Homo sapiens: one gene and its partners. The protein of the gene in region 2 purifies or fractionates together with the protein of the main gene of each other region. This does not show direct contact. Each region holds a gene or a part of one and is shown on either strand. Other genes may lie near its edges.

Evidence for each region.
Region 1: the proteins of PYGB (region 2) and CEMIP purify together in Homo sapiens (co-immunoprecipitation; one study listed by IntAct). This does not show direct contact.
Region 3: the proteins of PYGB (region 2) and SUGP1 purify together in Homo sapiens (affinity purification with mass spectrometry; one large-scale study listed by BioGRID and IntAct). This does not show direct contact.
Region 4: the proteins of PYGB (region 2) and EPM2A purify together in Homo sapiens (affinity purification with mass spectrometry; one large-scale study listed by BioGRID and IntAct). This does not show direct contact.
Region 5: the proteins of PYGB (region 2) and CDC42BPA fractionate together in Homo sapiens (co-fractionation; one large-scale study listed by BioGRID). This does not show direct contact.
Region 6: the proteins of PYGB (region 2) and PPP1R3F purify together in Homo sapiens (affinity purification with mass spectrometry; one large-scale study listed by BioGRID and IntAct). This does not show direct contact.
Region 7: the proteins of PYGB (region 2) and WARS1 fractionate together in Homo sapiens (co-fractionation; one large-scale study listed by BioGRID). This does not show direct contact.

Annotation. Positions count from the first base shown.
Region 1 is NC_000015.10:80,883,870-80,887,369, forward strand, and holds part of CEMIP (cell migration-inducing and hyaluronan-binding protein precursor), read left to right. Parts: intron 1-305; coding exon 306-485; intron 486-3,500. UniProt on the Homo sapiens protein: Mediates depolymerization of hyaluronic acid (HA) via the cell membrane-associated clathrin-coated pit endocytic pathway. Binds to hyaluronic acid.
Region 2 is NC_000020.11:25,254,585-25,258,084, forward strand, and holds part of PYGB (glycogen phosphorylase, brain form), read left to right. Parts: intron 1-3,500. UniProt on the Homo sapiens protein: Glycogen phosphorylase that regulates glycogen mobilization. Phosphorylase is an important allosteric enzyme in carbohydrate metabolism. Enzymes from different sources differ in their regulatory mechanisms and in their natural substrates.
Region 3 is NC_000019.10:19,300,010-19,303,509, reverse strand, and holds part of SUGP1 (SURP and G-patch domain-containing protein 1), read left to right. Parts: intron 1-61; coding exon 62-162; intron 163-1,121; coding exon 1,122-1,245; intron 1,246-3,500.
Region 4 is NC_000006.12:145,624,805-145,627,520, reverse strand, and holds the end of EPM2A (laforin), read left to right. Parts: coding exon 1-105; 3' UTR 106-1,796; coding exon of another isoform or gene 1,797-1,826; 3' UTR 1,827-2,216; downstream 2,217-2,716. UniProt on the Homo sapiens protein: Plays an important role in preventing glycogen hyperphosphorylation and the formation of insoluble aggregates, via its activity as glycogen phosphatase, and by promoting the ubiquitination of proteins involved in glycogen metabolism via its interaction with the E3 ubiquitin ligase NHLRC1/malin.
Region 5 is NC_000001.11:226,989,365-226,993,492, reverse strand, and holds the end of CDC42BPA (serine/threonine-protein kinase MRCK alpha), read left to right. Parts: 3' UTR 1-3,628; downstream 3,629-4,128. UniProt on the Homo sapiens protein: Serine/threonine-protein kinase which is an important downstream effector of CDC42 and plays a role in the regulation of cytoskeleton reorganization and cell migration. Regulates actin cytoskeletal reorganization via phosphorylation of PPP1R12C and MYL9/MLC2.
Region 6 is NC_000023.11:49,283,293-49,286,792, forward strand, and holds part of PPP1R3F (protein phosphatase 1 regulatory subunit 3F), read left to right. Parts: intron 1-2,541; coding exon 2,542-3,500.
Region 7 is NC_000014.9:100,365,348-100,368,847, reverse strand, and holds part of WARS1 (tryptophan--tRNA ligase, cytoplasmic), read left to right. Parts: intron 1-1,804; exon of another isoform or gene 1,805-2,260; intron 2,261-3,500. UniProt on the Homo sapiens protein: Catalyzes the attachment of tryptophan to tRNA(Trp) in a two-step reaction: tryptophan is first activated by ATP to form Trp-AMP and then transferred to the acceptor end of the tRNA(Trp).

The DNA of each region.
Region 1 (3,500 bases), on a different chromosome or scaffold from region 2:
CAAGTATGTGACCCACTCAACATCCTGGAGCTTGAAGTCTTCACTGCTGCAATCATTTCTTTGGCATTTTACTCAGCGAATGAACATTATGGTCAAGTCAAAACCCTTCTTCTTGGATATCACTGTATGGTATGCAAAATAATGAAACTTGTTTGCTCTTTAAAGAAAAGGCTTCCTTCTTTAAGAATCACAGCCCTGGGATCATCGGATAGCATGTTAGCTGTCGCAGCACAGGCATGTGCTTAGAGCTCTTTGTTTTGGCTGCGGTCAAGACTATTCAGATCTCTTCTCTCTGCCCTTTTTAGGTTTGACACCTATAGATCCAAGAAAGAGAGTGAACGTCTGGTCCAGTATTTGAACGCGGTGCCCGATGGCAGGATCCTTTCTGTTGCAGTGAATGATGAAGGTTCTCGAAATCTGGATGACATGGCCAGGAAGGCGATGACCAAATTGGGAAGCAAACACTTCCTGCACCTTGGATTTAGGTACTGCCCCTCACTTCGGCTTCCACTGGGCTCTGGAACATTGAAGCCACTCTATCCCACTGAGAATTTACCTTTCCCATCTCCTCTCCCCACAGCCGTACCATCCTAAATGACCTAGTGGATGCAGGCATTTGCATTTGACATCTGAGTTTGGCATATTTGGGAATTGTTCTTAAAGAATGCTTGTTTTTTCTTACAAGCATAGTTCACTCAAAACAAACAAAAGCTCGCTGTTTATATGAACTCATTCATTCAGTCGGCCACTTACAAAATATTAAGTGAGCATCTACTGTGTGTAAGAGCCATGCCTCCAATGCACAGCTAATATTCATTTTCTCTTTCTTTGGTAAAGAGGTCATGTCATGGCTTGGGGTTTTTCAGAGATTATGTGAAGTGTCTCTGCTGAGGCAAATGACCAAGGAGAAGCAACCCTTTGACATGATCTAATATGTGTTTTGTTTGCCTTGGAGTGCAGCATCATGCCTGACATTGGCATGCACACACATTGACACTAAGAGGAAGCTGTTTGCCCCACAGTAAACAATGCCTTTTTTAAAAATTTAATTTAATTTAAAGTTCCAGGATACATATGCAGGACGTGCTTGTTTGTTACCTAGGTAAACGTGTGCCGCGATGGTTTGCTGCACCTATCAACCTATCACCCCGGTATTAAGCCCAGCATCCACTAGCTATTTGTCCTGATCCTCTCCCTCCCTCTGCCCCTCGCCCCTGCCAAGCCCCAGTGTGTGTTGTTCCCCTCCCTGTGTCCATGGTAAGCACACCTTTTTATCATGTTGAATCAAATCTCAGCTCAGTGGAAAGTTGAGGTTATCTGTCCCATGGCTGTTTAGAGATTACGATGCTCCTCCCTTCAGCTTCCCACATCTGGGAGCAAGATCAGAGGGAAGCCAGAGACTTTTCTGGGCTTGGAGCAAAGCAATTTTGCTGGCTGGGCAGAAATTCCCTGGGCAAGGGAGGGGTGCTCCAGGTTCCAGAGTGCATTTTCCGACAGCCCAGAGACTACTTCTTCTGGACGGGAAACTCAAGCAGGAAACTTAAGCAGCCAAAGATGACAATGACACCTTGGCATTGCAAGCCTCCTTTGTTAGCAAACACTAAGTGCACTTCCATTCTGTTGTTTTATAAACCAAAAGGCCAGTTTATTAATTTACAGTGAGAGTTAGAAACACCAGGAAACTGACTATTTACGGCCTCAGCAGAAGAAGAAAGTGGCTAAGGGCCCAAGATCTGGCATCCAGTGGCCTGAGTTTGAGTCTGGGTTGCACCTTCCAGGAGGTGTGACTGCAGGCAAGTGACTCATTCTCTTTGCCTGGTCCTGCATCTGTAAAATGGGATATACGAGGAGCTATCTCAAAGGACTATAGGACAATTAAATGTGATAATATGAACAAAATATTTGTCATCATGTCTGGCACAGAATAAGCACTCCATAAATGTTAGCAACTATTTTCTCCTTATAAGCAAGAGCCACTGGAAAGGTGGGCACTCGCCGTCTTTTGCCAGGGCTGTTCACATGGGCAAAGGAGATACATAGGTGGGAATTACACGTCCACACCTCATTTGTATAGAGACATTCTTTGAGTGATAAACTTGAAGCATCTAAAATCAGTAGGAGAACTGAGACTTGGACCCTTCATTTGTTCACCCATTCAGGAAATGAACACATACTGGTGGGAGGTACTCGGTTAGACCAGGTGTCCTGAACTCTTGGGGGAAGGCAGGTATGAATGGAAATTGGTGACGGGGCATGAGAGAGCAAGAGAGTGGGCAAGTGTAGTTTAGTGCAGACGAACACATGAGGATGAGGCCAAGCTGGTTCCCATAGAGAGATCAGCAGCTTCGGAGGCCCAGGGGCAAAAGCATGCCTCTCCCAAAGAAGGTGGGGATGGCGAGGCAGTGGCAGTATATGAGAGAGGCAAGGGGTGAGAGGTGAGGCTGGAGGGGGGCGGGGGCAAAGGACCTTCGAATCTGTGCCAAGGAGCTTGGATTTTATCCAAAGGGCAATGGGGAGCTACTGAAGGATTTAAGCAGGAAAGTGGACAGTTAAATCCCCAACCTCAGTTAAACACCGTTCAATAGTGATTCATTTTCCAAGACAAGAGATCAAAACAAGAATAATGAGAGCTATTCAGCACCAAAATCGATTGATAGCTTATAGTAAGAGAGGGCTACTGTAGGGGGGGAAAATCTCTTTCCTTCTACTCTTCTAAGTTCTTGACTGGAGCACCTGCAACAAATCACTGATTAACAGGAGAAAAGCACACAAATGTATTTCAGATAGTAAGTTTTAAACGACATGGGAGCCTTCATAAGGAAACGAGGACCCAAATACACAGTTAAACCTGAGTGTCTGTACACGAGGTTTGATGAAGTGGAGAGCTGTGGGAAAATGTGGTAGGACAAGGGGCTTGAGTTAAACACAGTAAACAGGGGAAATTTAGCAAGGTCTCTGTTCCTTCAGATTCCTCTTGGCTTCCTTCTGTGTTTGGGGATAAGGATGCTCTTTTTCTCAGAATAAGGAAGGCCCTCTCACATAAGGGTCTTAGACCTGCTTCAGGGGAAAGTCAGAAACTCCTTCCTGCCATTTCACAAATTCCTTGAGCTTGAAATATTCAATATGCCAAGTTGCCATTTTGGGGGGTAGCGTCTCCTGAACTTCATTACTGCATTAGGCATTACGCAAAATGCCTAAAACAAAATGGGGTAAGAAAACCTTGCTGCCCTAAAGCAGCACGTGCTTTCATGGAGGAATGATGGATGTACAATTTTTCAAAACCTTAAGCCTTTTTTTGCTTCCCTCCCCATTAAGAAGAAGAGAGATTTCTCTCCTTTCCACGGCCCAAGGCAGATGGCTAGGGCAGTCAGTCATGTTAGCCTCTGGTATTTTCCTCGAGCTCAACTCTAGGGGAGCTGAGCATGAGAGAAATAACCTTTCTCTCTTGGAACATGTTTTCCTGAAGGTATCCAAGCATTTGCTTCAGGACATAATTGAGC
Region 2 (3,500 bases):
ATGTAATTTTAGGTATAGGTAAGTGGCATTTCTCGGCCTACAAACAGTTAAAATGAAAGATTAAAGTAGTGTTTAAAAACGATGACTGGTAGCTCACTAGGTATAAATATAGTTTGACACGGTCCAGATCACTTAGTGTAAGTTGATTAGGCTCTGTCAGTGATAAGGAGAAGGCTCCCATCGCTTTCTGGCTCTGGATTAGTACTGAATAGACTTTTTGTGGAGCTTAATTGCATAGAAGGCGGGAGACAGTGACTTGTGGCAATGTGTGTCATGGAGTGTAGAAGGAATTTGTTTACTACAGAACCAAGTGATCTCTTAAGATCCCCATAAGTTCTAAAGTTCTATAATTCTTTTACATTTGACATTTTCAAAATTGAGCAAACAGACCTGTGTTTGAGTCGTAGGTACTGGAGTGAGAAGGAAATCCACGATCCACGTTGAGAAGCCTGCCCACTGTTCATGGGAAGCCAAGTTTCCCTGGCAGTTAATTCATTAAGAAAGTACCGTGTGACATCACAGGCTGGGAGCTTGAGAGATGTGCTAGCTAATCCTCACATCCTTACAGCAGATACAGTAGTGGATTATCAGATTGCTCTGTGAGCAACTCCCCAGAAGCCCCCTCAGACACAGTGGAGTGGACACTGTGACACTGTCAAGGAAACCAAAGACCAACCTCAGCGTCTGGCAGGTGGGAGGCCCCTCAACATCTCTCCTCCCACAGGACCTCGGTTCCCCTGGATGGTATCTGAGACTGCTCAGCTCACCAGCAGGAGCCAGCAGGTCCAGCCCAGGGAGGTGGCCCCTTTGTGTCTGGAGGGGCTGGGAGCCCCCGCTCCAAGGCCTGGCTGGTGGAACGTGGTGCCCACTGGCCTCTGGCTGGCTCAGTGGCCTGTGTTCCTGTGTCTTATCAGGGCCAGCTCTGTCCATAGTGCCTGGGTGGCAGGGAGGGACACTCTGCCCTGTGAGTCACTCTGTGCCCATGTAGGAACCAGTAGAGGGCGGCTGGTCTGAGGCATGCTGGCACCGACAGAATCGAATACACAAAAGGAGAGTTGCTGTGCTTTCCTGGGGACAGGAGGGGACCGGTTTCAGACCAGATCTGCCTGTAGAATGAGGCTCTTCATCTTGGTGAAAGCAGCCGCCCAACTCTTTTTTTTTTTTTTGAGGTGGAGTTTTGCTCTTGTTGCCCAGGCTGGAGTGCAGTGGCGCGATCTCTACTCACTGCAACCTCCGCCTCCCGGGTTCAGGCGATTCTCCTGCCTCAGCCTTCCGAATAGGTGGGATTACAGGTGTGCACCACCACGCCCAGCTAGTTTTGTATTTTTAGTAGAGACGGGGTTTCATCATGTTGGCCAGGCTGGTCTTGAGCTCCTGACCTCAAGTGATATACCTGCCTCAGCCTCCCAAAGTGCTGGGATTATAGGCATGAGCCATCACACCTGGCTCCAGCTCTTTCTTTTGTTTCCCTGAATGTTGGGAAAGTTCTTTCTTTTTCCACCAGAGTATTAAGACACTAACGTTAAATGAAGACTCTAGTTAAAAATCCCTTCAGAAAAGGGAGAAAAAATTGGTGGTCTCCACAGGCCCAATTCTGTGAATCTCTGTCTGTAAAGAACAAAATGAGGCTCTGCCAGTTGGTGTTACACTCTCTTTTCAGAGTCTGTTAACTCCTAAGGTGTCTTTAGGTGATTGGTATTTGGTGTACTGTTCGTGTTGATCATATTTTCATCTATTTTTGAGCTTTATGTTTTTCTATTATTTGCCTGGTTGTGTAGGCTTTGCATGTGATAAACTCTGTTAAAAAAAAAAAAGTGGAGGGCCTGGCTTGAACCCAGGAGGTGGAGGTTGCAGTGAGCCAAGATTGCACCATTGCATTCCAGCCTGGGCAACAGAGCGAAACTCTGTCTCAAAAAAAAAAAAACAAAAACAAAAACAAAAAACAGGCTGGCTTTAGGCTACTTAACACTTGTTATGTCATATTGCAAGAAGGGACCATGGTAGAAAGATCAATGGCCCAGTTCAATCCCAGGCGGCAGGGCCTCCTTAGAGCAGAGCTGCTGAGCAGGGAGGTTAAGGGATCGTGTTGGCATTTTCAGGCTGAAGCAGGTGAGTCCAGTTCTCCAACCAGCGCTCCCTGAGCAGGGAAGCCCTGTTCATGGTTGCACAAGAGGAGCCAGAGGGGAGTGAGTGGAAAGAGGCTGTCCTGCAGCAGCAGGATTTGGGGTCATGGAAGAGCTAGGTCCCTAGGCTGTTGCTTGGACAAAGCCTATGCCTTTACATGGTTTTTTTCAGAACTGCCACTTGGCAACTTTCTAGGCTTTGCATTTCTCCTTGAAAAGTCTGGTATGGTGAGGGGAACCAGCCTTGCCTGAGTCCTAGCCTAGCCCTGTGCGAGCCCACAGGTGAATGTGGTCCTCTCAGAGGCTGAGTGACTTGCCCAGGTCACCCAGCTAGCCAGGGCAGGGAGCTGGGATGAGACCCCAGCCTGTACCATTCAAGTCTGCATTTTCTTGGCCAGCTCCTCCAGCAAGCCTCTTTTCAGTTTCATGGTTTTCACTCTGAACCATATTAAGGTAAAAGCAAAATAGACACATCTCAGCAAATGATGAAAGTTCTTAAATTGAAACAAGTTGCAGAAAAACCTCAAAGCAGCAAAACACATTGCAGTCCCCAAGGACAGAGCCTGTGGCCCGGCAGGCCCTGGGCAGTGCCTTGGGGGCTGTGCTTCAGCAGGAGGCTGCAGAACCCTCGATGTCTGCATGCAACCTGGACAATTGGAGACGCACAGGCTTCGAGTCTAGGCCCAGCACTTCCCGTGTCAGTCCTGTCCCTTACAAACAGAGATAATCAAGCTCTTGGGACATAACTGGTAAACTTTTTCCCCACAGTAGAAAAGTTCTAAGTAGAAGTTAGGAACTTTTGCAGAGAGAGCAAACTACAACCTAAAAATCCACATTTTAGCCAGGTGTGGTGGCATGCACCTGTAGTGCCAGCTGCTTGGGAGGCTGAGACGCGAGGATCACTTGAGGCCAGGAGTTTGCAGCCAGCCTGGGCAACATAGTGAGACCGTCATCTCTTAAAAAAAAATATACATTTTTAGTTAAAGGCAAAGTAAAAACATTCTGGTCATGTTCCTGGCCTGTCAGCTTTTTATAAAACCTCTTGTTAATACTTGACCCACAGTATTTTCTCAGATAGCCAGGGTCTAGTTGGGCTCAGTATGATTTCGCACTGGTTAATAAACCCTGCCTGGACAGTGCCTGTGGCTTCCTCTGCCAGAGGGGGGAGGCAGGTGCTATGGAAACCCCATAGAATATTAAGTTCGTTCAAATGTAGTGTAAATAAAATCCAGCATGATGAAAGTCCACAAGAGGCCTGACTGTGAGTGACAGCAGCAGTAGTTGTACTTATAGCGGCTATGAGGACTCATTAATTATGCTGCTGTAATTCCTGTGACGTAAAGGACTTTGGAATTTATACAGTAATGTAGAAGCCTA
Region 3 (3,500 bases), on a different chromosome or scaffold from region 2:
GGGATATGCCTGTCACAGATACTTATTTTCCCCTCTCTTCTGCAAACTTCCTCCTCTCCAGATTTTTGCACGATAAGAATAGCAGGGAATTCCTCTACTACAGGAAGAAGGTGGCTGAGATAAGAAAGGAAGCACAGAAGTCGCAGGCAGCCTCTCAGAAAGGTAGGTGGACGGAGCGGGTGGGAGATTCTGGGGAGGCCTGTGGACATACCGTGCCCCAATGCGGAATCGGGGTTCCTGGAGGTGCTGGAGTGGCACTGTGTGGCACCGGTGGTTGAGGCCTGTATTCTCCCAGGCATCTGGGGTCACTCTGGGAATGGGTCTGACACCACCTTCCCCCTCAGTGCTCCAAGGACCTGGTGAAGCCTGAGTGTCAGGCCACATTGTGGGGTAGACGGGAGCTCATGGAGGTCGAGGTCGCTTCTGGGAGAGCGGTTCAGGGCAGTACCCTAGGTAGAGGGGGCTTTTGCTTGTTGGTTCTTTGTTACATTAACAAGTGTTGATGAGCCCCAGCTTCCTCCTGGGCACTGAGGACAGGGCAAGGCAAGTGTAGTGTAGGGCCGAGGGCCTGGGGGACAGACACTGTCAGCTGGTGCAATTCTGATGGGATGAATTTCAGGGGAAGGGGAAATACTGGCTGGTCTTTGACTGCAATGACATAAAATCCCAGCCAAGTGCTGGTGGGTTGGTGGGGTGGAATTGATGTTCAGGCCAAGCGCAGGCTGCAGAGGTTTGTTCCTTGTGTTCCCTGTGGCCCTGTGCCCTGAGCCTCTCCCCAGGAGAGGAGGCCCAACAGCACCCCCTAACCATGTGACCTGGGGTGCTCCCATCTGCCTTCCTGCCCTACCCAGACCCGCAGTCACATTTGGATCCTTTGTCCTGGCTCATGTCCCAGGCCCTCTTGACCTCCCTTGTGGGACGGGGCGGGGGTCGGGGGTGGGGGCTTGAGGTGTGTTATGAATTCTGGCATCTGGTCCCAGTGTAGTAATCTGATTCCCATTTGCCTGTTTCTCTTTGCATCATTCCTAAAACAAACCCCACTTGTTGCCCTTGGGGTTCTTAGCAGAAATTAGGCTGTTGGGTGTGGTGAGTTGAGCCCAGTACTGACAGCCTGCTTAAAGTTTCACCCCCAGAGGACGAAGAGGTCAAGAACCTTGCAGAAAAGTTGGCCAGGTTCATAGCGGACGGGGGTCCCGAGGTGGAAACCATTGCCCTCCAGAACAACCGTGAGAACCAGGCATTCAGGTAAGGGGGGCCCTGCCAGGGAGGTGACCGTCACCCTGGCCACAGTCCCCCTGCAGGGGAGGACACTGGATCAGCATAGTCCAGCCACCTGCTGGGGTCCCACTGTGAGAAGCTGGCAGGTCCAAGAGTCTCTGACCCCAGAGCCCAGCTCTGCCTCCCCACAGGCATGTCCCACGCACACACCAGCACCCCTGGGTAGTCTCTGAGGCAGGTGCACGGGGCCTTTGGGGCCTTTGTGTCTTTCAGGTGCCTCATGGAGAAAGTCTCTAGCACTTGCCCAGTTGCCTTTGGGACACACAGCAGCCCTTGGCCGGGGGCAAGTCAGGCTCTCAAGTGGAAATTCACAGTACTGTTCAGTTTATGTTGTGTACGTTCTCAGGGTCTCCCCTTTATGATGAGGGAAATGGCAGGGAATGGGGAACTTTAGGATCTGTGGAGGGGGAACACCCAGCCTGTGTGCGAGTTCCACAGAAGGGTGGGTGTGTGACAAGCAGCCTAGCCTCCCTGCCATCCCCGGCCATGCGGTCGTACCCTAGCCCCAGTGGCTGGGTCTGTGTTCACTGGCTCATCCATTCATTGGGTGGGTTTGGCACTTGCTCTGTGCCCGGGGAGGCGGGTGGGTGCCTGGGGGATGTGAGGGTGACATGCCCGTGAGCACACGCCTGGCCCCAGGTTACACAAGCCCCGACTCAATCAGTGAGGAGGTGTGACAGCACATGACAGTCCTGGGGCAGCAGCTGTCTGGGCTGGTTGATTCAGCAGCCCTAGACTTCATCACAGATGGGGCAACTGTGCTTCTGTGGTCACTGGCCAAGGTCGTGGAGGGTGGGCAGACATGGCCAGGCCAGGTCCAGGCAGACGAGGGCAGTGGGCCACCATTGGGAGGTGGGACTGAGGGAACATGGGGGCTGGGAACAGGGAGGGTCAAGGCTCAGCTGACCCAGTGAATGGGGACGGGGAGAGGGGCTGCTTGGGATTCAGGTGTGCCCCAGTCTGGTACCTGTGTGTCCAGGAGCCTGTGTTGGGGCCGTGGATTGTTTAGGCCTGGAGTTCAGGAGATGGATCTGCCTGGGACTGGAGGCCCCCCCGACAGGTGTCCTGAATGTCAGACTGGCCCTGGGGATCATTGAGTTGTTGACCACACCTCAGGGTTGGATCACTAGTCCACTCCAAGTCATCATGTCTTTCCTTCATTTGCCTGATTAAGGCTATATAAATAAGAAACCTAGTTTGCTGTCATTGTAGGTAGACACTGACTGTGGAACCCTTTCAAAGGAGAAGCAGGCAAGGATATGGAATTCTGTCCAAGGCCCAGAGCCCGGTGGCTCTGCTTGGTCAGAGGGGTCCAGGGCCCAGCCGCTGCAGCCCAGCCTCACCCCTGATGTCAGAACTGAGAGATGCTATTGGTGCAGGTGGCCCCGGCCCTCCTGTGTGTCCTTTCTGTTCTGGGGTGTTGCTGACAGGCGCCCAGCTTGTCAGGTGTGGCTGTCGGGGAGGCCAGGCTGGTTGAGGTCGCCTGGGGTGGGTACCCCGGGCAGCCAGAGGAGACGAGGCTGAAGGGAGCTCATTTCCGCACTCACTGCAGAGCCAGAGCCGGACCAGGAAAGAACTGGGTGGGTCGGGGGGACGACCAGGTATTCAAGCCCCTGCAGGGTGTGCAGGTTTGCTCCTGTGTTTAATCTCCATGCAGGGTCAGCTGTGAGGCAGCCCCAAAGCACAGAAATGCTAGTTAGACCCACATGGTTGGCAGACCTCCCCTCACCCCCAAATCTAACAGCCGCCTCATGTGGCCACTCCTGGCCCTTCCCTGTCACGCCTGTGGGCCAGGCATACCCCAGCCACTTTGGGAAACAATTTGTAACCAACTGCATGGCTATAAAGAAGCTGGAGGCCTGGTGCGGTGGCTCACGCCTGTAATCCCAGCACTTTGGGAGGCCAAGGCAAGTGGATCACCTGAGGTCAGGAGTTCGAGAACAGCCTGGCCAACATGGCGAAACCCCATCTCTACTAAAAATATAGAAATTAACTGGGCATGGTGTCATGTGCCTATAATCCCAGCTACTTGGGAGGCTAAGGCAGGAAAATCACTTGAACCCAGGAGGCAAAGGTTGCAGTGAGCCGAGATGATGCCATTGCACTTCAGCCTGGGTGACAGAGCAAGACTCCATCTCAAAAAATAAAAAATGAGGCTGGGCTTGGTGGCTCACACCTGTAATCCCAGCACTTTGGGAGGCCGAGGCAGGTGGATCACCTGA
Region 4 (2,716 bases), on a different chromosome or scaffold from region 2:
GCCAAGAGGCCGGCTGTCTACATTGACGAAGAGGCCTTGGCCCGGGCACAAGAAGATTTTTTCCAGAAATTTGGGAAGGTTCGTTCTTCTGTGTGTAGCCTGTAGCTGGTCAGCCTGCTTCTGCCCCCTCCTGATTTCCCTAAGGAGCCTGGGATGATGTTGGTCAAATGACCTAGAAACAAGGATTCTACCTGAACTGAAAGGACTGTGTGACCTCCCCCAAGCCAACCACTTTCACCTGGGATGACTTTCGATTATGCTTTGTTTTGGGGCTGTATTTTTGAAATACTCTACAAGAAAGCTGTGGCTCAACACATGAGAAGAAGCACGAAGCAGTTAGGCTGTACATCAGACAGAAGGGTAATGCGTGCAGTTCCTGCTGCCTGCAGGCAGACGAGGCCTTTGCTTTACAGCACTGTATGTGTTGCACGATGGATCCGTGACAGCACTTTCCTGTTGCACTGAAACTCTTGGCCATGTAGAGGAAAAGATATGGAGTTATGTGGATTTCATCACTAGTATGTGTGCGTGAGCTGGTCAGTTGCCAAAGGAGGAAATAAGGTTAGAAGCCTGAACCGTTACAAAAGAAGAGCTCACTATGGTCAAAAAGTGATGGCTTTCAGGACTTGTTTTTTATCCTGCCTCACAGTTGTTAAAGTCTGTTCCAAGGCATCACCTTCCTTCTCTACCCAACAACCCTGTGTAACAACTAAAGTAGAATTATCTCTCATTTGTTGTTGTTTTTCCTCAAAATTACCAAACAAAGCAAAAAATACCCTTGTTTTTTATAGTTGAGATGTCAAGAAGTTAAATTGAGGCTTAATGAGCATAGGTAGCTTGTCCAAGGTCTCATGACCAGTCAAGGGCAAGCTGGAGTTAATAATCTATATTTATTTGACTCAGCACTGTTTTCATCACAACTTGTTTTCCCAGCATCATGTAGTGCATTTAGTTTTGTCTTTCTCAGGGTATAGTCAATATGCCTGCAGGAGTTTCTATAGCGAGACATAGAATAGTATTCTGATCAGTTGCCAAAGAATCTAGGAAATTAGTTGTATTTTGTGCAAGCTAATTTAAAAACATGATGGGCTGTTTTAAGACCAGAGTGGAAATTCATGAGAGGAACTATACTACCAAAAGAGCCCAAATGACCAAATCCATGGATAATTGCTTCACAGCCTTGGCCATCCTGGCTCAGCTCTCAATTTAGTATAATATGCAGTTCCTGTGCCTCCAGACTATGCAGCTCATCACCCTAGGTTCTACAGGAAATACAGAGATGAACAACTTTGCCTTCAAAAATGTGCTGCCTAGAAACAGACCTGCATTCAACCAACTGTAATGCAGGATTGGACCATGAATGATATGCTAGAATAGAAGAAAGAGAAGTGTTTTTTTAATTGAGAGCCTCTATGTGCAAGGTGATATATAATCATATCCAGTTTAATCTTCACAATATCCAATGAAGAAGGTCTCATTATCTCCATGATAAAGATGGGGAAACTAAGGTCAGAAGGGTTAACTCAACTGTCTATTGTCACATGATGAATAAATAGATGAAGTGAGATACAAAGCTGGGTTTGATTCAAAGCCCTTACTTTCCTAATTAAACTATGATGCGTATTTATTTTTCTGCACCTTCCTTTCTTCCACAAACACATATTGATAGATGCAAGAGACTCTTATTTAGAAGGCGTGGGGGACAAGAAGGATACAAGGTAAGTTTCAGTGGAGCTCAGAGGACGGGGAGATAGAACTGTGGCACTTAGGGGAGATGACATTTGCTTTGGGCAGAGGCAGCTAGCCAGGACACATTTCCACTATAATTTTACAAAGTTAAATTTATAAGCTAGCATTAAGTAAAGTGAAGTCCAGCTCCCTTGCTAAAAATAACTAGAGGTAATAATTGGTATTCAGGTAACTCATTTACAGTCATAATGTGTTGTGAAAATTTAATCTTAAAAATTAAATTTTTAAACTATGTGGGTCTGTGAATTTCTTTAATGTCTAAGAAATCCAGCTTCATAATTTCCATGATACAAAGATCTTTTTTCAGGTGGATTTTTACCTTTGTTCCTTTTGCTCTGATAGACAAAATCAGTTTAGGACTATTAAAGAATGTTTTGGAATAAACTGTCTTTTTCCTCAATGAATGGGATGTCTAATGTATTTCAAAATCACCCAAAACTTTTGGCAAATAAAAGCATTTAAAAAGACCTTTCTGTACAGGATTTTTAAAATGTTATCAGCTTAGTCTGAAATCTAGAAGGACAAATTTTGTTTCCTTATTTGTAAAGGGGGCAATCCACTGAGCTAAATTGTTTATTTTTCTTGTCACTCTTCCTCTTTCAATTAAACGATCAAAATTGGCAGTTACATGATAAAGGAAGTCAAAGGTGAAGGACCACAGAGAAGTGAGGATGAAAACTTAGAGTGTGTCTGAGAAAATCAAAGCAGATATTATGCCATTAGCTGCTTGTCACTGGTGTTTAACAAAACTTTTCAATCACGGATTTCTCAAAGGCAATCATGAGAAGATCTCATTCATGGTGAAGGAAAGTCTGAATGAGGTGGTTTTCTTTCAGACTTGAAACATTATCTTTCTATCATTCTGCTTGCCAGCATTAGGAAAAATGTAAAACACAACACAAAACACTCTCTTTTGACCATCATTAAGGTGTGGTAAAAATCACTTGGCTTGGTGTAAGAAATAATG
Region 5 (4,128 bases), on a different chromosome or scaffold from region 2:
GGGGAGCTGTAGAAAACACTTGCAGAGCCAGGTTTTGCTGGTTTGGGGCATGCCCTGGGCACCAGAGCTTTAACATTTGAAGCCACTTCAGCAGCAGCAGCAAAAGGCGAACTCATCTCTACCCAAGATGTTTCTTTTCCTAGTGGTGGAATTTGAACACTTCTCACTTTTTATTGTATTTTATCTTCCGCAGATAAATGTAGAAATACACGATTCTGTCACCTCTGATCCCTTCCATCTGAAAGGTTACAAGGAGTGTTGTAGCTTCTGAAGGTGCAGAAAACAATTTCTAAAAATGCTTTTATTCCTGGGCTAATCCTGTCCCTCCCTAAGTCACAGCGAGGTGTCTGTCCCAGGGCTGGAGATGCTTCCCAAGGAGGAGTCTGTTTTGTTGAGAGTGGGCGTGGGCTTCTTCACATAAGCCTGGGGAAGGAAGAAAAAACGGCTTTCATTACCAAATAATGTAAAACCTCAAAAGCAAGGGCTTCAACAGCCTTAACCAAATATTATTCCCCATAGCCAGTGGAAAATGGATGTGACAACCCCAGTGCGCAGGCCAGAGTGAGTGAGCCCAGCACGGCGCTCCGACTGGCTTCCTCTCTCAGGTGCTGGATTGTGGGGTTAGTGGCATTTCCAGCTGGATTCCTCCTGTTGTAGTTGCCATAAGGAAATGAGATGCAGAATCAGAAGGATCTATTTCTACAGAATCATTTCACCAGTTAAGCACATGAGTAGAGAAAGAGATAAAAATAAAAGTATCTCATGAAGGAAAGAGATTTTGCCTCTCTTTTACTTTTCACCTAAGTTTCTCTGAGAAATAGAGACAGGATTCTCTCTTTAAAATTCAGTGAAAATGAAGAAAGTTTTCCTGCAGTTGCTAACCTGAGTTGCAGTGTTTAAGGCCATCATTTCACTGCTGCTGTCTGTGACTCCACGTCTGTGTCACTGAGGTGACCTGCGTGTCACTGAGGTGGCCACCATGCTGGCCTGCGGCATGTGCAGGGAGCTGAGGCTGTTTCCAGGTGATGCTGCTGTGTGGAGAAGGTTCTGAGATGCAGTGAGGGAAGAAAGGATCCTGCTGGGGATTCCATTGTAAGCACCTATAATCGGGAATTTTCATGTAACAGCTTTGACATTTAAACATTCTGAGTTTGGTGCCAGCTCAGATTTGATTATATTTTATTTTGGATGGGTGTAATTCACAGCACAGTTCTAATCTCCCAAATCTTTCTGCTTTTTAGAATGAAGTATAAAAATACTTTTCTCACCTGAATACCAAGGGTTGGCCCTTTAGTTGGATCATTGTCATATGACTTGGTAGATCCTTGTCCTCAGCACCTCACGTGAGAGAAGGGAGTCAGCCAGCCGGCCCCCTGCTTGGTGCTCGTGACCAGCTCGCACCCCTTCTGTCCACCCTTCTCTCCTCTCCTCCCCACTCTCCCCACCCTCCTCACTCTCCCCACCCTCCTCACTCTCCCCACCCTCCCCTCCTCTCCTCCTCACTCTTCCCACCCTCCCCATCCCCACCCTCCCCATCCTCCTCTTCCCTTTCCCCTTGCCTTCTCCTCTCTCCCTTCTCTTCTCAGGCAGGGAGGAGGCCATCCCAAGCCGAGATTAACAGGACTTGACATAAGCCATTAGTTTGTAGCTTTGACAAGTAATTATGAATTTTTGTTGCTTATAGGTGCTTATTTTGCAAAGGATGCTTTTAAGATCAAAATAATAACCCTACCTAAAGTCTAGCTCCACTGCTATGGGTCATACTCTTCAGCCTCCCAACAGGGCAGAGAGAGAGAGCTACTGAGGCTTGTCTAGGTTGCCAGGCTAACTGGGCGACTTGTCCATATTCACCCCATGGATTGCACCATGGCACTCTTTGATTTTTCCACTGCAATGGCAAGTAATCTCATCAGTCATAATAGAGCAGTCCCGAATGCGTGCAGATTCTAAAAGCAGGGCTTTAGGAGAGAAACACTGCCAGGGGGAATAGTTTTGGGGAGGGTTTTCCCAAAATAACGGTCATCCTACTGGGTTTATCCCACCCTTAAATATGAAGCCTGTTACCTCCAGAAGCTTCTGAGAAGAATGATGTGAAAAGACAGGGAGTGGGTTCTAGGCAAAGAAAACATAATGACCATTCAGAGGAGTCAGTAGCACAGCTCACAGATAAAGTATTTTATTACTATCTGAAGTTTTCTTTTGTTTTCATGCAGGACATTTTAAAAACGTATATGGCAGCAGAAACCTGTTTCTCAATAGAAAAAATACATTCAGAGGCATTTCTGGGATAGTCTATCTGTGTTAGTATTTGGTGCTATCTATGTCCAGCCAAGTTATCTACCCTCAAATTCTGACTAATCATGTTTGTGCTTTGGGTATTTAAAATTACATACATATATATTCTTTTTGCCAAAAACAAAAGTCTTGCTTCTTGTCAAATGATTGCTAAAGTAGATCTTACATTTTTTGTTATTATGTATGTATTTATACACATCCCCAACACACTTAGTGATTTCTGTTATTTCCTAGGGAGCACAGCTTTAAGGCTATGAGATACAACTAAAAGGAGCCCATCTATTTGGTTTTCCAGCCAATTATTGTACTCACATTTCAGGGGAGAATCTGAAATTCCTGTCATGTTTACAGCAACAATCTATCATTCCTGGCTAGCTCTCAGCCTCTCTCTCCTTCCATAGGTTAGAATTATGTCATTTTGTTACTTAGTGGCCACGTCTATTTCTGAGAAAGACTGGTTACATTTATGTGGCATCTCAGGTATCATTAAGGAAAAGCCAGAGCAGGGGTGAGCAGAGGTCAAAACCACAGACGCAGCAGGGCCATTTGCCGCCTTTGGCCGGGATCACAACCACTGCAGTCTCCCAGCAGGTAGGCCTTGCCAAGCCTAAGGCTCCCCATCCAATCTAGACAGAGGGGCGCTCAGAGCAGACTTTGCCGTAGCCCATGTCTGGTGAGCACAACAGGGAATGAATTGGGCACTCCACTCCCCCGTCTCTCTGGCCCAGCCCTGAACTAGATGAGCTGCATTTCATGGAGCCCATTTTAAAATCTCTTTCCTTATGACTTTGTTACTCAAGTCCAGAGTTCTCTGTGCACTTCTGCTAGATAAGGAGTGTAAGCCCTGCCCCCCAGCACTGGCAGCACGCTGGGCCCTCCCCACACAGGACACCGTGCAGTTCCGGGGGAAGCTGACTCAAATCAACCTTGAAATCTCATGAAAACAAAATGACTTGTCTTTTTATTTGATAGTGTAATATCATTCATTTTATAAATTTTTTAGGGTTTTTCTCGTAATATTGTACAGTTTTGCATGGCCTGGTGTGATCATTTTTTGGTTAGAATATAATGCTGACAAATGTGGATGGAGGGGAAGATACTGCTTTAGCCTATCACTCCTTATTTTATTTTGTTTGGTTTTATGCCCTCAGTGTCTTAGGGAACTTTTTAAGAGATCCTCTGCTACCAAACAATGATGTGGATTCTTTTGCACAGAAATATTTAAGGTGGGATGGTAAAAAATGTCACAAAAGACTCCTCACCAATACTTTATGTTGATATCACTTAATATTAACCAGACTTTGCTGTATTGCAATAAAACAGAGAACTGTTAGCATTGAGTATTTTGTCTCTTTTCCCCCCACTTGAAAGTCTGAGAAATAGAGAAAGGTGCCACCTCTCCGCCTGTCACTTCTCTTCTTTCTGCTGGCCTCCTTCCTCATCCAGGCTGCTTCTTTATGCCGTAAAAGGACATGGGGTTAGTTTGCCCCTGTGGTTTAATCTAGGACTTTCTTAATTTCTTCCTTAGCTCGGGTAAGAATGATGTTCAATTCTCCTGAAGCTTTCAACTCCCCTCTTCTGGCCAGAACTTCGCTGTTGCTGTTACTTCGGTCCACAAGACCAAACCCTGGCTGCGTGAGGTTTCCTGAGTGGCCCTGACAGTGTGAATGTGGGAGCAGTTTGATTTTGTGTCACTTAAACAAGACGGACTGTTACTGCTTTTCTGGAGTTAGAATGGTTCATCTAAGAACATACAGGGAAGGTCCAGGGGTGGGGTTAAAGGAACTCCTGAACTGGTGGCAGCTAAGTAGTTATTCGGAGAATACTTCCGGT
Region 6 (3,500 bases), on a different chromosome or scaffold from region 2:
GTCACCTAGGCTGGAGTGCAGTGGTGTGATCTCAGCTTACTGCAACCTCTGCCTCCTGGGTTCAAGCAAGTACATCCAGCTAATTTTTGTATTTTTAGTAGAGACGGGATCCGTTGCCTTGGCCTCCCAAAGTGCTGGGATTACAGGTGTGAGCCATCACGTCTGGCCAGAAAATTAAGAATTCTTAACCCCACAATACTATCATCACACCTTAGAAAATAAACGGTAATTCCTCAGTATCATCAAGTATTTGGTCAGTGTTCAAGTTTTCTTCTCTCATAAGTGTTTAGGATCCAAACAAAGTTGACATGTTGCATTTGATTGATGTGTCTCTTTAGATTTTTAAAATCTCCCCCACTTTGTTTCTTTGCAATTTGTTGGTTGAAGAAACTTTGCTTGTCCTGTAGAATTTTCCAGTCTGGGTCTGGCTGATTACATCCAGGTGGAAATACATTTCTTACTCCATTTTTATTAATTTATTAATTATATTAATTAATGTAATCTTATTAAATTTATTTAATTTATCAAATTGTATTAAACGAATGTATTTAATCTTTTATTATTAAATTAACTAGAATTAACTCTATTTAATTCTATTATTCCCACTTCCTTTATTAGCTAGAATTCTTCTCTAAAGAAAAACTGTCCCACACCAGCTATTTGGCTACTTTGAGATATAGTTTGTGCAGAAAAAGCAGTGTAAATATTTAATTTTTTCCATTTTATTTACCAGTTTTCAGAGAAGTACTACTACAAAGGTGACCAATAAAAGGATTTTTGGTTTTGTGTCATTATGAACTCATGAATTCTAAACATATTTGAATGAGTTTCAATCCATTGCACTTATTTGTTTGCTTTTTTTGATGCTTAAATTGAACTATCCCTGGCTAGTAGGAGCTTATTGAGATGGGCTACTCTGTCCTTTTGACACGCCCTCATCATTCTGTGAGCCTTTCTCACATCTTCCATGACAATATGTGCTAGGTTCATCCTGTACTCTCCCTGCCCCAAGCCTGGAAACAGCCATTTCTTTCTTGCTTTTCTTTTCTTTATTTTCTTTTTCTTTTTCTTTCTTTTCTTTCCTTTCCTTTCTTTCCTTACCTTTCCTTTCTTTCTTTCCTTTCCTTTGTCTCTCTCTTTCTTTCTTTTCTTTTACTTTATTTTTCTTTCCTTTCTTTCCTCTCTCTCTCTCTTTCTTTCTTTTTTCTTTTTCTTTCTTTTTTTTTTTTTTTTTTTTGAGTCAGAGTCTTTCTCTGTCGCCCAGGCTGGAGTGCAGTGGCACAATCTCGGTTCACTGCAACCTCTGCCTTCTGGGTTCAAGCAATTCTCCTGTCTCAGCCTCTTGAGTAGCTGGGATTACAGGCACATGCCACCACACCCGGCTGATTTTTGTATTTTTGCAGAGATGGGGTTTCACCATGTTGGCCAGGCTGGTCTTGAACTCCTGACCTGCCTGGTGATCCACCTGCCTTGGCCTCCCAAAGTGCTGGGATTACAGGCGTGAGCCACTGAGCCTGGCCAGAAACAGCTATTTCTTTAAGGAGCACTGATTCCTTTCAGTGGAGAGTGGCATTCAAAGGCCAAGATTTGGGGGCTCGGCATGCTTGCTGCTACTAGATTGGTCATTGTTTCTAGGCCCTTTCAAAAGATGGAGCTAGGAAATAATTGTTTTTTAAAGAGAAGATGATACATCATGGGTTCATATGGACATCCTGGCTATGTTTTGGGATTTTTTTGCATTTTATTTTTTTTAAAATTTTTTTAATTTTTAATTTTTGAGGGGACATAGTAAGTGTATATATTTATGGAGATGTTTTGATATAGGCATGCATTGTGTAATAATCACATCATGGAGAATGAGGTATGCATCTCCTCAAGCATTTATCCTGTGTGTTACAAACAATCCACTTACACTCTTTATTTTTTTTTTTTTGAGACAAAGTCTCTGTCGCCCAGGCTGCAGTGCAGTGGCACAGTCTCGGCTCACTGCAATCTCTGCCCTCTGGGTTCAAGTGATTCTCCTGCCTCAGCCTCTTGAGATTACAGGCGCACAACACCACGCCCAGCTAATTTTTGTATTTTTGGTAGAGACGGGGTTTCACCATGTTGGCCAGGCTGGTCTCGAACTCCTAGTTTCATGTGATCCGCCCGCCTTGGCTTCCTAAAGTGCTTGGATTACAGGTGAGAGCCACTGTGCCTGGCTACTTACACTTTTAGTTATTTTAACTGGCTCTGTTTTGAAGGTAAGCCAGCAGTATTTAGTGATGATCATTCACCAAATATTCACACCCACCGAATTCCTCAGCTTTATAATCTGCAAGAAGCCCTGTTTTACTGCATCCAATTGTGTTATTTTACCATAGATGACAGTCTTTGGAGTCTAGACAGTGACAGAGGGCGCTTTAAGGCATTTTTATATAGAAACCCCTGTGGGGCTGGCTGTGGGCTGTCACACTTCTTACTGTCTCTGCTTGTTCCATCCCCTCCTCTGCTTCATTCCCTTGCTTTTTCTCTGCCCCCTTGCCCCGGCCATGGCTCCAGGTTTCTGACGTTCCGATGACTGGCAACCCCGCAGAAGAAGGTGATGTCCCCAGAAGCAGTCCACCTGTGGCTTTTACAGAGGTCCTCCAGGCACCGGCCATCAGGATTCCCCCCTCCTCCCCTCTCTGTGGCCTGGGTGGCTCCCCCAGAGACCAGGCCTCAGGGCCCGATGCGAGCGAGGGGGCCACCGGGCCTTTCCTGGAGCCCAGTCAGCAGCAGGCAGAGGCCACATGGGGAGTATCGAGTGAGAATGGAGGGGGGCTGGAGGCTGTGAGTGGGTCAGAGGAGCTGCTCGGTGAGGACACCATCGACCAGGAGCTGGAGCAGCTCTACCTGTCTCACCTGAGCCGCCTACGGGCTGCTGTGGCTGCGGGTGGGGCAGGGGGTGGTGGGGAGGGCTCCACAGATGGAGGGATGTCCCCCAGCCATCCCCTGGGCATACTGACGGACCGCGACCTGATCTTGAAGTGGCCTGGCCCTGAGCGGGCCCTGAACAGCGCCCTGGCTGAGGAGATCACGCTGCACTATGCCCGGCTGGGGCGTGGCGTGGAGCTCATCAAGGACACCGAAGACCCTGATGATGAAGGGGAGGGTGAAGAGGGGCTCTCTGTCACACCCTCCAGCCCAGAAGGGGACAGCCCCAAGGAATCGCCTCCAGAAATCCTCTCCGGGGCCCGTTCTGTGGTAGCCACGATGGGAGATGTGTGGCTCCCATGGGCAGAGGGCTCAGGATGTGACGGCCCTGTGGTTCTGGGTACAGAGGGTCAGTTCATTGGGGATCCTGAGAAAGGGATGGGCAAGGACACCAGCTCTTTGCACATGAATAGGGTGATAGCTGGGGTGACTGAGTCCCTGGGGGAGGCCGGGACAGAAGCCCAGATAGAGGTCACCAGTGAGTGGGCAGGCAGCTTGGATCCCATATCTGGCAAGGAGCCAGCCTCTCCCGTCCTTCTGCAGGG
Region 7 (3,500 bases), on a different chromosome or scaffold from region 2:
CTGGGATTACAGGCATGCACCACCACACCCAGCTAATTTTGTATTTTTAGTAGAGATGGGGGTTTCACCACGTTGGTCAGGCTGGTCTCAAACCCCTGACCTCAGGTGATCTGTCCACCTTGGCCTCCCAAAGTGCTGGGATTACCAGCATGAGCCACCACGCCAGCCTTGGTTATAGTTTTAAATGTATTTTTCCTTTATCAACATTGGGATGCCTGTGGTCTAAAGAGTCAGGGGTTCTCAAAGCCTTTGTGAAATACAGTGGCCCTCCAGCCCACCTCTCCCTATTTCCTGCTCAATTCTTTTAGCCGATCTTTTGGTTATGTACTCCCCATATCTGTAAATATTCTGCTTATCATATTGTTCCTTGTTGATTTTCAAGTTGGGGTCTTTCAGGTGGAAATGAAGCATTCGTACCTTCACAACCACTTCCCGTCCAGGCAGTCTCCCCATCTGTATTGCAGTTGTAGTTAGGTCAGTATCTGTACACTGACATTATTATGACCATGGAAATAGACGTGGACAGCTGAACCATCACGGATAGAATGAGTACTCTAACTTTCTCGCCCAGCTTTTGTTTTCTCTGGAGTTAATATTTGTCTTAATATCTGTTTGCTTGACTTTTTTATGTCAATGATACTAATGATAATGTATCTCCAAGCCCTTTCCCTGTCCAGTGAATCTCCTTTCAACACACATCAACTAGTCTATCAAGTTCATCTTCTTGAGGCGATCTCTCCCAAAACCTTCTGCCTGCTTCCCTCTGAAGTGGGGGCTCTTGCTTCCTACACTGCCCATCTTGGCGTCTTTCTTCACTGTCGACCCAAGGGGTTCTTTCACCCCTGTCGATTGGGTGCCCCGTTTCCTGCTCCTGCATCTTTATTCCTCTTTGCTTTACTCTTTGGGCAGAGCAAATCTTCCAATTGTTTCTGAAAAAAATATTGCAAAGGAAATATTTCTAGGGGGATCTTGCCCATCTGAAAGCGTATTTATTTTACCTAAAACATGATTGATAGCCAGGCTGGGTGTAGGGTTCTAGCATGGAAGTGATTTCCCCTGGAAATGCTGAAGCCACTGCTCTATTGGCACCTAGCTTCTGGGCTTGCTGCAGAGAAGTCAGTTGCCATTCCTTTGTTTTTTCTTTTTGGAAGTTAGCAGGATCTTCTTTGTTCCCGTGTTCTGAAATTTCATGGGATGCAGGTTCAGTATGCCTTTCTTTTTTTTTTTTTTTTTTTTTTTGCCACCCCACCCCCGCCCCCCGAGATGGAATCTCACTCTTTCACCCAGGCTGGAGTGTGGTGGCACAATCTCGACTCACCGCAACCTCCGCCTCCTGGGTTCAAGCAGTTCTCCTGTCTTAGCCTCCCAAGTAGCTGGGATTACAGGCATCCGCCACCATACCAGGCTAATTTTTGTATTTTTAGTAGAGACGGGGTTTCACTATATTAGCCAGGCTGATCTCAAACTCCTGACCTCATGATCTGCCCACCTCGGCCTCCGAAAGTGCTGGGATTACAGGCGTGAGCCACCACACTCAGCCTGCCTTTTAGACTAGAAACTCATGGCCGTTAATTCTCAGAAATCATGATTTCTTTGATCTCTTCTGTTTTCTCTCTTCACAGACTTTTTTTTTTAATTCAGAGACTGTTTCTCTGATTTTCTAACCCTCCTATTGTTTTCCATTTCTGCTATCATTTTTAACTTCCAGGAGCATGTATGCTCCCTGAAGTTTCCTCACAGCACTCTGCCCTGACTCATAGGTACAGTACCACCCTTTTCTCTCTGAGATTTTTTTTTTTAATCTTATTTTACTGTATTAAATCTTACTAATATTCTGTAAGGGACAAACCAGACGAGTAGGCTACAGTGAAGAAATCTTATTTTGGAGAGTTAAGAAACCACTATGATACTTCCAGGTATTATCTTCAGTGATGCTTCTTATCTTTATTCAGGGACTCCAGGTAATATTCAGCTCCTACAGCTACCACAAATGCAGCAAATCCCCATTTGAATCCTTTAAACAATACATCAAAAAAGGAAACACTCTTTGCAAAGCCACCCATGTATCTTCAAGCTTCATTGTGGCCCCACGGATCCCTTAGCCCTTTTTCAGCCAGCTTCTTCTGGATAGTTTCTAATGGTGTCCCTTCTGTCTTCCGTTGTCTGTAATCTAGAAGTTCCATTTTACGATGTCCATGCTCATGTCCATGTCCATGGGCCATGTCTGACAGCAATCTGACCTCTCAGGACACTCAACTCTCTCTCTCTGAGATCTTAATGGTAGTTTTCCATATGTCCTCTACATCCTTTATAACCTCAGTTTCTTCCATCTTAATTTGTTTTCTACCTGCCTTTCATATTAGAGGCAATTCTCAACTGTTTGGTGTTTCTTGGCTATTTGCTGGTGTTTTGGGGGGTGCACTGAAAGCTGCTGGATGCACTCTTCATTGGGGAAGAGCTTATCAACATAGGTTCCACTTCCTGGAGAGTGACCAGGCTGCTCCCCTTTTGTTGGGGAATCTTTCGTGTCAAGGTCTTTAGATCTTTTCTTTAAAGTTAAGTGAGATTCCCCAGAGAAAGCTCCCCCAGTCCACTGTTCAGAGGGGGTGAGTCCCGCTGCCAGAGTTCTACGGCTGAGTGGGAGAGAAGGGCTGGGCTGTGGGATCCTTCCCCGAAGCTCCCTATTCTCTGTGTGCTGCCAGTGCCCCAACTGTGCAGACTGCCCCCAGTCTAGGCACCTGTAACTCTGTCCTCTCTTGACATGAAACCTTGGAATGGAGGGGAAACTGTGACACTCCCTTGGCCGAGGGGAGAGGGATTCTCAATAACTGCTTCTTGAAGAGACTTCAACCAGCGCTCCTGTTTTCATAACCCGCTTTCCTGCCCCCACTCCTGTAAGTGCGCAAGGTCACTAAGGCCCGAACCTTTGGGTGATTCCGTAACAGTGTACACTCGGTCACCTTCCAGTATTTCCATGATGTCTTAGCATTTGTTTTTCTCTCATGCTGTTAGGCACTGATCATTCATCAGCTTTCTGGCTTCTGAAACCTTGTTGCTGTCATCCTCTTCTTGTTTCCTTTGTCCTTGTGGGATTATGCTTTAAAAAAAAAAAAAAAAAAGAAGATCTCTGCTTTTGTTGTAGTAGATTTCAGAAATATCATCATCAATACGCATCTTTAACTAGAACATAAGCATTTCATTTCCTTCTGGGGTGACTCCACTCCGGCTTCTCCATGACTTCCATCACTTTTTTTTTTTTTTTTTTTTTGAGGCTGAGTCTCACTCTGTCGCCCAGGCTGGAGTGCACTGGCACAGTCTTGGCTCACTACAACCTCTGCCTCCTGAGTTCGAGCGATTCTCCTGCCCTGGCCTCGTAAGTAGCTGGGACTGCAGGCGCCCGCCACCACACCCGGCTAATTTTTGTATTTTTAGTAGAGAGGGGGTCTTGCCATGTTGGCCAGGCTAATCTTGAACTCCTGATCTCAGGTGATCCGCCCGCC